Linked DNA regions of Homo sapiens: region 1 is linked to region 2. The links come from fine-mapping of genetic effects on gene expression. Tissue or cell type: thyroid. Region 2 holds a variant in brackets; the other region holds the start of a gene. All regions are shown on one strand. Distances are from middle to middle.

What was found. PIP is the estimated chance that this variant, and not a neighbour inherited with it, causes the effect.
Region 1: THSD7A starts here. The variant in region 2 is fine-mapped to the expression of THSD7A in thyroid (GTEx, PIP above 0.99).

What each region holds. Positions count from the first base shown.
Region 1 is chr7:11,830,013-11,835,166 of GRCh38, forward strand. It overlaps THSD7A (thrombospondin type 1 domain containing 7A), which reads right to left and starts at 2,186. Exons shown (of 28, transcript NM_015204.3): 1 at 1,745-2,186. The coding sequence starts at 1,934. RefSeq lists a silencer at 1-225 and enhancers at 1,783-2,323, 2,324-2,863.
Region 2 is chr7:11,464,089-11,469,242 of GRCh38, forward strand. The region is part of intron 9 of THSD7A (thrombospondin type 1 domain containing 7A); the gene reads right to left. Among named protein-coding and RNA genes, the nearest start is that of THSD7A, 370 kb to the right of the region's middle. The variant G/T (reference allele first, on the strand shown) is at 2,643.

The DNA.
Region 1 (5,154 bases), 370 kb after region 2:
TCACATTTACATGCAGTTGAGAAAACTAAGGGTCAAAATTTAAGTGAACTGCCAAAATTCCTACAGCTAGCAAGAGCTAGGACTGGCACTGGAATCAAGGTCTCCATATCATTGTTTCTGAGAGCTTCCCACTATTTTAAACTGTTTATTGGCTTGTGTTCCTACCATGACATTTATGATGACATATATTGACACCTCAGATGCTGTACAGTGAATGTTGGCTGGGCTCTTTTCCATCTGAATTATTGCTTGGCTCTTGTTACTTTGCTAGTATAAATTTCAACTAGGCAACTACTATTTCATCCTACACTGACTTACCTAAGAAGCTCTCCCCAAGCATCCATATGATACCATTTAATGGTAAATTATAATTTGATTAATGTTTGTCATTATGAATGTGCTTTTAACAAGTAAAACCCTAGCTTACGCTAAATTAGAGATCTTCAAATCTTCGTTTCAAATTGAAGTAAATTAATTTTATTTCATTTGAATTCATTACTCAACTGATCTTCAAACTTAAGGTGTTAGCAAGAATAATCTTGCTTTTTAAAATGTGTATATGTTTCATGTAATCTTCTAAGACAAATTGTGTACTTTGACTTTAAATAAATTTCTGTTTAATCTCCTCACTAAATTTCTGGATAGCTGCAACTTCTTTAAAAATTCCAGATATCGATAGTGATGCAATTGTAGAGTAGACTGAGCTGTCTCTTCAGTAGTGGTGCAGAGATGGGCTGAAGCAGGAAAAGACACTCACTCCCTGAAACCTGTTTGCAACCCCATGACGAATACATACTTTCCCTTTCAACTACAACATTCTCTTAATGTTTGGCATGACCAAGTTATTCTTAAATTACCCCCTAGCTCTAAGCAACAGGAATAATCTTTTCCCATTTTATTCCTATGAACATGTGAAGTTTCAGGTCCCCTAAGGAATTCTCAATGTTTTTTTAATGCAGAGAGAAAGCGAACCCGCAGAAAAGGGGTTGGTAATTCCTCACTCCGTATTGTTTTCCTGCCTGTCACGGCCCCCGCCAGAAACTCCAAGCATTTTGCCAATGGGTAATGATGGGCAGTTAGTAGCTGCTTTTGTTGGGTGGTTGAAAAACAAAGCAAAACAATTCTCAAGGAAGGAAGAGAAAGTTTGAACCCAGACATCCTAAAAGTTGTACACTTTAAAAATCCTCCGACTCGCTAGTTAATAATTGAGTTTTCAGTCTTTCCCTGAAGGCTCACTGGAGCCCCATTTGCCTTTAATTGTTGGAACCGCCCTCACTTGGCTTGTTTCTGAGGTGTCCCACATATCACAAAGCTAAAGTTAACAAATTCAACTCTATATCCACAAATGTCATGACAGTGAGCATATTGCTTTGCCTAAAGAATAAAGACTGAGACTAAACTCTTTGCTTGTTCTTTGCTAGAAATCTGTTTGAGAAACTCCTAGTAGAATGAAAATCCAGGGGTTAAAAATAATGCACTTCATCATGGAAGTGCGCGTTGCCCTCATTACAGAGCTGCGAGAGAAATATTCCAGCTACTCACTGTTGCCTCTTAGTTGTTATGCTTTTCTTTCCTAATTGCATCGGACATGACCTATTTGCTTCCTAAGAAATCATACTTTTTACCTTAGGATACCAGCATAACCAAGCCATCCAAAAGCACCGGGGTCCCTACAGAAGCCCACCAGCTCCTTAATGTGGCCCCAGATGTGAAGATGGGGAAAGGGTAACTCCGTCCCACTTACCAGTCTTCCACAGATAGAGGGTGGGCGCCTCCGCCTCGCCCTGCGCCGCAGCCCTGCCGGCGCCCGGGCGTAGCAGCAGCAGCAGGAGCAGCGGCAGCGGCAGCGGCAGCGGCAGCAGCTGCAGGACGCCCCGGCGCGGCCCCGCAGCGCCCCGGCTCCCGGACGCCCAGCGCCTGGCTTGCAGCCCCATGCCGCCTGCAGCCACTCCAGGGTCCAGAGCCGTAGCACGCTCGGCAGGGAATTTTTCTCCGCTCTTGGAACGTCTTTTCAAAGAGTACAGAAAGCAAAGCTCTTTCCTGCTATTGTTCGCTTCAGATGAGAAGGAGGGAGAGCGCGTCTAACACCAGGGAACAATAGCGTCCGCGGTGGTGGCCGTGGCCGCTGCCGCCGCCGCCGCCGCCTCTGGCGGGGATGCTGCTGCCGCTGCCATTCCTCGCAGAATGGCAGGTCCCGGCGGCTCCGGAGGCAACTGTCCTCAGGGGGCCCCAGCTGACTGAGCAGGTCTGCTAGGTCTGGGAGGCAGCGCAGCCCCCGCCAGCTGGAGGGGGAGGAGGGGGGCGTGAGCCCAAAGGAGCAGAGGGGGCTGGAGGCAGAGGGAGGCGAGAGCGCGAGGGCGAGAAAGGGGGCGAGCAAAGGGGAGAGGGGCCAGCCAGGCGACACCCACCTCCGACATACCCGCCTAAAGAACTCCGGTGCACATGGTGCGATGAAATATGTTTGGAAGGATGCACCAATAAAAAGAATCATCACCCGGCAGATTTCAGAATGACAAATAACAGGCATTGATATTCACTGTCATCCAAGGAGTCAAATGCTAGATCTAGTGGCATGCTATTCTTAGTACGTATTTACACAAAGCATCAGTGTTTATTATCTATTTTTAAGCCATGGCTTCTGAATTACTTTGTGTGGGGAGCAGTATTTGAGATCAGGTGTGAAAACACGAGAGCAGAAATGTTGACTTGTCAAAATGCACTTAAACCCTTCTTTAAATGTTGTTTTTAACTTAATCTATTATCAATAAAAATATGAGCAATATTGATGCTCTGTGACAAATTAAATTGTCTTTTAATAGCCTTTAAAACTGAATTAGTGTTAATGAGTATTTGCAATGCTACCTAATTACATAAATACAATTGTACAAAAAAAAAACCCTTAAAATTAAAATTATATTTCAGGTATAGAGTTCTGTCCCTTCATCTACTTCTTTCCCTCAAAAATATGCTACTTCTAAGTATTCAGATAGTTGTGAGTCAAACTGAGTCAGTAATGCTGTCTGGATATCTTGGAATTAGTAAATTCTTCATTTAAAATTTCCCTGACACCGATTTTTCTTAACTCTTACTGTAGCAAAATGCCTGTCGCAATCTAAATAAGGAACCACATGTGTTTGCATCTTTTGTCCTTTGTGTTTTCACTTTCTTCTACCAGTAGTAATAGAAGAATGTGTGTGAAGTCGGATAATGCTTTCCCCTTTCTCCTTCTCCCTTTAGCTAATAATAATATATTTTATTATTAATTCATTTCACAGTAAAGCTAAAATAGTAGGCATTTAACCATTAAAAATTCAGCAAACGGAAAGCCAAAGAAAACTACTATCCCATCAGCAATTTTCAGCCAAATAAAATAAAATTTTAAAAGCAGGAAAACTACTTTTTATGAATTTACTCCAACATAGCTACCCTAGAGTTTAAGATGAGGAAGCTACTCTTTCTGAAAGAGGAAACCTTCCATAAGGCTCCCTTGGGACCCTTGTCATTTTGCAAAGCCTTCCAGACACAGCCCCTCTGCATGCATTAGATTAAAAGCGGGTTTGATCAAATAATTCCCAGGTCCTGCCTGTTTAAGTATTCTGACATCAGAGGAAATTAGCTACGTTGAAGGTTGCAAATTTGGTCTTTGTTTACTTTCCGCTCTGTTAGGCCTCTAAGAAGGAATTAAAAGCTCAGAGAGCCCGAGCGCTGTGAGTCTGTGATTAGGAGAGATAAGCTAGTGTGGCTTACTATTTCTTCACTCGTGAAAAACAGGCAACAATCAAAAGATTATAGGTTGATAAGGAATAAAAAGGAAGCCTGATCTTAACTAATGTATGGTTCCCTGAAGGATCACTTCTTTTGACAGTTACACCACAGAAGGAAATGGGACCTGCTATTGCTTCCTGGGTTCTGTCGTTTCAGGAAAATTTCCATGTCCACTCCACAAGGAATCATTTTCCCATCCTTTCTGCTTGTATTTCTCAGCTACTGTTAGTGCCCTAAACCTTGAAATCCTCTAACTCTGGCACAGGAAGTATTTCAAACTGGACATACTCTGCTAACAGCAGCCATTCTACGCATTCGTGGGAAGCGCCAATCAATTCACCAAGTGGGAATTCATTATATAACAGAGGACAGAGAGTCTGAGGAATTAAGTTAATGTGCAAGGTCATTTACCTAGCCCTTCAAAAAGCCATCCGACACTATACTTAATAGCTTATTGTCAAAAGAAATTTTAAGATTCTGACCTTTATATTTACCCATGGTGGTATAATAATAACTCAACTTGTCAAGAGTGTAAACATCATAGCTACAAATTCAAGCATTATACGGGGTCAATTTCTAGGTTCCAATTTGCTGCCATTTACAATACACAATTATGGTGATATGTTCTGCAGTACTGTTTCAAAATAGCCAACATTTGGTTTCCTTCTTTCAATTTCAACGTACACAAGGCCTAGGAGTCACACACACACATGCACATACACAAACACACACAATCATCAGCAAAGATATCTCTGAACAAGGTTAGAGAATCCAAGTCATATAAACATTTGTCTCCACACCTGCCACACATTTGTTCATAACAATGTCATTATTGCACTTGAGGACAAAAATGTATGGGTCTCTGAGGAGACAAAAGTGATGTATATATCCTGATATGTGTTCCTTTGTGAAAGGTATAGTGTCTAGGTAGATAAATCCTATCAATAAAACTGATAGATGGCAAGAGATAGCAAGACATAGCAATATTTGTTTCCTAGAATATGACATAAATAATAATACACAAATGTTTAATGACATGATGTCAAAATTTAGTCATGAGAAGTCTCAAGGATGCAGATTAAATTGACCATCTGTACAGCCTGCCATGAAGTAAATCGTTCGTCATTTTTCATGGAGAACTGTTCAAATATTAATGAGCCAGTGCGATAAAAGTTCTCCAAACCAATGAATGACAAATGCAAAGCATATTTTTTTAATATTTAGAAATGAAAAAATTCTAAACTTATCACCTCTCATGTGATAGGTGTCTTTATTCTGCCTCTATTAATTTTGCTATCATTTCTAAACTCCAGAGGTAAGGATGTGAACATACCTATACACATCTGTTTTCTCTTTTATTAGAACATAAACATATAAATATATATTACA
Region 2 (5,154 bases):
ACTACCTGGATTTGCCCTTCTTTTACAATTTCTATTTTTTTCTTTTGTTTTATGTGTATGAACTGTCCATAATCTTTTTTTTTTAAAGTATACAAACTAATTAGACTCACATTTGTTTAACATTGGGGGAAGCAGGGAGGTTTCTGTTTTGTTTTTTAATGGGGAGGTAAGACGTAAAGGGCTCAAATGGGTTTTTGTTTCCCAGTTGGTCAAAATTCTTAGAGGCAATTACTCTCCAATCTGCAGATAGAGGACAGACACAGGATTAAGACCAGGGGATTTGGGGGCTGGTGGAGACAATGAGTTCAGCATTAGTGGCACCTCATAGACTAAAGCTCCTACTTATTAACTACCTAGATGGCACCTGGTGCATAGCCAGGGCTGTTCTACTTGAGGAAGCAGCTACCAAACATTAATGTTTCAATTCTATTTTGTTTGTTGATTTGAAAGAAAAAATGTCACTTAGAATACATTTCTGAAACATTCTCCTAATGCCTTCTCATCACAAACTCCACAAATTAGTACTAGATATATAAGACTATGATGACTCTCTTCACGTCCTTAATGGATTCCAGAGTGGCAATCCATTTATTCTTATGAAAAGTTCAAATTCCTTAACCTGGTACAGCCTACAGGATAGAGATTGTGACCTGATTCAAGTGGAACTCTTCAAAGATATGACACCCAGAGAAGACGTTTAATGGGGTTACACAGGAAGTGTCAATGACATCTATGTTTTTACCCATTGGCAGGTCTGTTTCTTCTCATATTGCAGTTAAGAAATTGCTTGTGTACTCAAAGTTACAGCGCTGTAGAGCTTTGCCAGGTTATACAGTCCTCAGATCAGAGAGCAGAAAAAAAGGAAGCTATACAGCACACATTAAAAACAAAAAATGAAAGTTTCATCATTAATAACTTGAGCTGGCAAACTGGGAATTTTATACCTTTCATCATCCCCTGCTTGTATTTATGCTCATTTTATTATATGCGGTTGATATATTTGTAGTGTTTCTATTCATCTGTGTGTTTTATACCTAAGACAAGAGTCACATATAGTAAGTGCTTAATAAATATTTGCTGAACGCACAAACACATTTATTTCACATCTTCTCAACTGGATTATTAGTTAGCACCTTCTATTTCTTTCCACTTATTCCTTTATAGTGGTAAGCGCACAGGTACCAATGCTGTGCATTAAGGATTAATAAAAATAAGCTATCACTTTGTTTTCATTGGAAATAACAAGTACGCGAAAAATAAGGGCACCTGCCTGTGACGTTTGTGCTTAAAAATGCCTATCCAGGATAGGAATGGAAAAAACAGATCGTACATCTAGCAAATAATCATGTGATGATGGGGTACACAGATTCAGAAGATATGTAATCTCTCACACAGTTATAGCATTTTTTCAGATATCTTAAGACATTCAAAATAAATTTCACCGAGAAATTACTTGATGAAAAGGATTTAAAAGGCAGGCAAAACTGATTCATTAAACTGGATATGGGATGGATTGCAGGTTGAAGCAGTACAGTAATAGGAAATTGAAAGGGAAATGTCTCATCCAAGAAGCAAAATGTAAAGGTAGTATTCAGATCTTTGGTGGTAATTCTAGTGCTCTAGTGATTTAGGACATGAGGAAGAAGCCTCTGCAATATTCCTTCTATTTCTCAACACAATAAATGCAGTGAGAAAAAAAAGGAGCAAACAGAATTTGAGCAACCAAATATATTATTTGATCAAAAGTATTGATTTTTTAAAATTAGAGGTACAAATAATTTATGTGCATAAGGTATTTCTATTTTTTAAAATGCCCTCTGTCAAAATTTACAAAAATTTGAAAAACACGTTAGCAAGTGCACTGGTCTCAGGATTAAACTACACTCCACTTAATACTGATCTTTATCAGCATTGATTTTTCAAGGGGTATTTTAGAAGAAGGCTGAATAACATTTCAAACAACTCTTTTAGTTCTTCCTGGAATCCTACTATTCTGTTTTATTTTGTGCAATAGTATTGTGTATTTGACTTCCTTAAAGTGATTTTAAAAAGAAGGATAGTCCTGCACTTTAATAAGCCCAACATCTTTGTAAAATTTAGACTTTACTCGCAGAATTAAGTAAAAAGAACCACCCCAACTTTGAATTAATTTTCTGTTGCTATTACCTCTCTTTGAACATTCAACTTTGCTTAGCATTTTTAAATGGTGTGTGTAAATTGGTGTAATTTCAAAATGATACTTGGGTTATTTCCATTTCTTATGAAATAATGAAAAAAACTAACCTCATGCCATTTACTTTATTTTCTTCACAACAAAAGGCTAGCTTTCTGTAACACCATTGTCTCCTTATTCTCAGTTACAGCAGTCTACAGGCAAAACAGAAAAAACTGCTTCTAGAGCACAAAGCATCTTGGCACTGTTATCCAACAATGACCCTTCTATCACTCTCCAGTCTTTAAAAAATTTTTATTTCCTCAAATACCCAACTGAGGTGATTTTTTAAAAATCGGAGTGCCTAGGTTTAGGGTTTCTGAAAACCTTTTGTTCTAGGAGAAACAACATGAGCTGCCAAATAAAACAGTCAGCACTCATTCCTTGCTCCGGATGACATGACCTGTGTTCAGGGAAACACTGCTCTGCC[G/T]CTTAGAGAGCCTCTTGCTTCTAAGAGAGCCGATTCCCGAGTTGGCATTTTTGCACTCTCTTGCCACCACCATCTCAGGAACACCAGGAGAGAATAGTATCCTAGTGGTACCATGCATTTTTACTTACAGAGGTTTCCTACCTTCCCCCAAGAGACCAACCCAACTAAACCCATTATGCCTCACATGCCTGCCACTCACCACAAGAAATGAGCCCTCCCCAGCTCCAGGTCATTCATCATCACCCGGACCCACAGCACTATCTACCCGCATAACACGATTCAGTTTTTCATTCCTTTACATCCTCTAGCCCTTCTACCGCTGCGCCCACTGGAACACATGATCTCTCATCTTCAGTCTCTTCTGGGAAAGTTTCCTTCACATCTTGGGCTCCAGTGGGCTGGTCGTTCCAAAATCACATCTTTCTCACAGTCATTTAAGGCTTTCCTGATGTCTCCAATCCTCACTTGCAATTCTTTCATGTGGTTCATCTTTCAAGAAGATCTCTTGTACCTCCTTTTCAGTATGATTTTTCTTAATATATTTGCTCTGACATGATTATTCCATTCCCTTCCTTAGAGCTCTTTGTGTTTTACCATTAAATTTTGTTATTGAACCATGTAAGTCTTACATTATCTGGGCTGTGCAGAAGAGTTCTATATGTTAAATGCAATTAAAAGCTTCCTTGATGTCTGGGACTGTGATTTCTCTATATGACCATTAGTGTGCTAGTTATATACAAAAATCAATAAATAAGTAATTAAATAAGTATTTATACATATATACACAAATAAGTACTGACTCAATTAAGACCTATGTAGCATTCACAATCTATTCATTCTCATCTATCTGCTAAGAAGTTTTTAAAAGTGCTTTATGTGAGTTATCACAGTGTTTTAGATTTTTTATTTTATAAATGATCAAACAGCAAAGAGCAAATCAGTTTCTTCATACTGTAAAAATCACAAATTTAAAAATCATGTTATTTTCTTTTCAAGTATGGTTTTTTACTCCTAAAAAACCTCTATTTTTTCTTTCCTTTCCAGATGTATATAATACGTAACAAAATCACAAATGTGTTTTCAAGAACTTAAGAAAAAATTTATAGGCTATTAAAATGGTTCCTAATTCCTGGATACATTCCAATATCCAAAATTATTTTCAAATAAAGGTCTAAAGAAATGAGAAAAATTCTGATTCTTCACTTTTATTAGTGACTACTCTGGAATCAATTTAATAAAATATTTTCTGTTCTTTTTTAAACTTTACTTCCTTGAAATACTTTAGATCAAATCAACTTTTTTAAAAGAGTAATTTACACAATACAAGAAAATATCCAAAATAAGGGAAAGGCAAAGTCTTTCCACTTTCAAAATTTTCACTTAAAATTTGTTTTAGACTATTAACAATTTGCTTATAAATGTAACTGCACATGCTTGGAATTATTAGTAAATGAACATATTCCATATAAACAGAAAAGATCAAGTATAAAGGCATCAAGAACAAAATTTGTAAGTGTATTAATTCTATGTAATTAATGCTTTTTAATTGAATTAATTAATAACCAACAATTACCACCTATAAGTGCCATCATAGGTAAAATATTAATCTATAAGAAAGTACAATTCTACTGCCAACTGTGACCGGTGTTATTCAGCTTAAAAAAAAAAAAAGGAATAAGAGAGGAAAATCTGGATTAAAATGTCAGGCAATGACACTGCATAGCAAGTTCATGCCATTAACATGTTTATAAAAGTTAATGCTTATAACTCCTTTTAATTTGCCAAAAGCTATTTAAATGTCTTAAAAGACTCCTAAATAAAAATATTTTGCAGTGGCTCGTGCCTGTAATCTCAGCACTTTGGGAGGCTGAGATGGGTGGATCACTTGAGGCCAGGAGTTCTAGACCAGCCTGGCCAAAATGGCACAAACCCATCTCTACTAAAAATACAAAAATTAGCCAGGTGTGGTGGCATGTGCCTATAGTCTCAGTGACTTGGGAGGCTGAGGCACAAGAATTGCTTGAACCCAGGAGGCTGAGGTTGCAATGGGCCGAAATTGAGCCACTGTACTCCAGCCTGGATGACAGAGTGAGAGACTCTATCTTAAAAATAAAATAAAATAAAGAATAATAATAATTTTCTATCACTTCTAAGTGTGGTTTAATTTTATTGGATATTTCAAGGGTATTAAATAGAAAACCATCAAAAGGAAAATCATGTTTCAACTATATAAAAATATAGTAACACAGTAAAAGTATCCATTATTAAATGTATAATACCTAAAGGATTTGATTAAATTTTGACAACTTAAAATAGTTTGTTAAGCTAGAAGTTGACTCTTAATTGAATCTCTCTAGTAAGTGTTAAGAAACATGAAAAAAATAAAAGCATACAGGAAATTTAGAAAAAATTATCTGTATTTGTTGAGTAAGATAAGAAATAGGAGACAGCGTCATTTGTAACACTGCAGGAAAATTTGCTCAGTTATTGCATAAGTCACCTGGAGGATGTT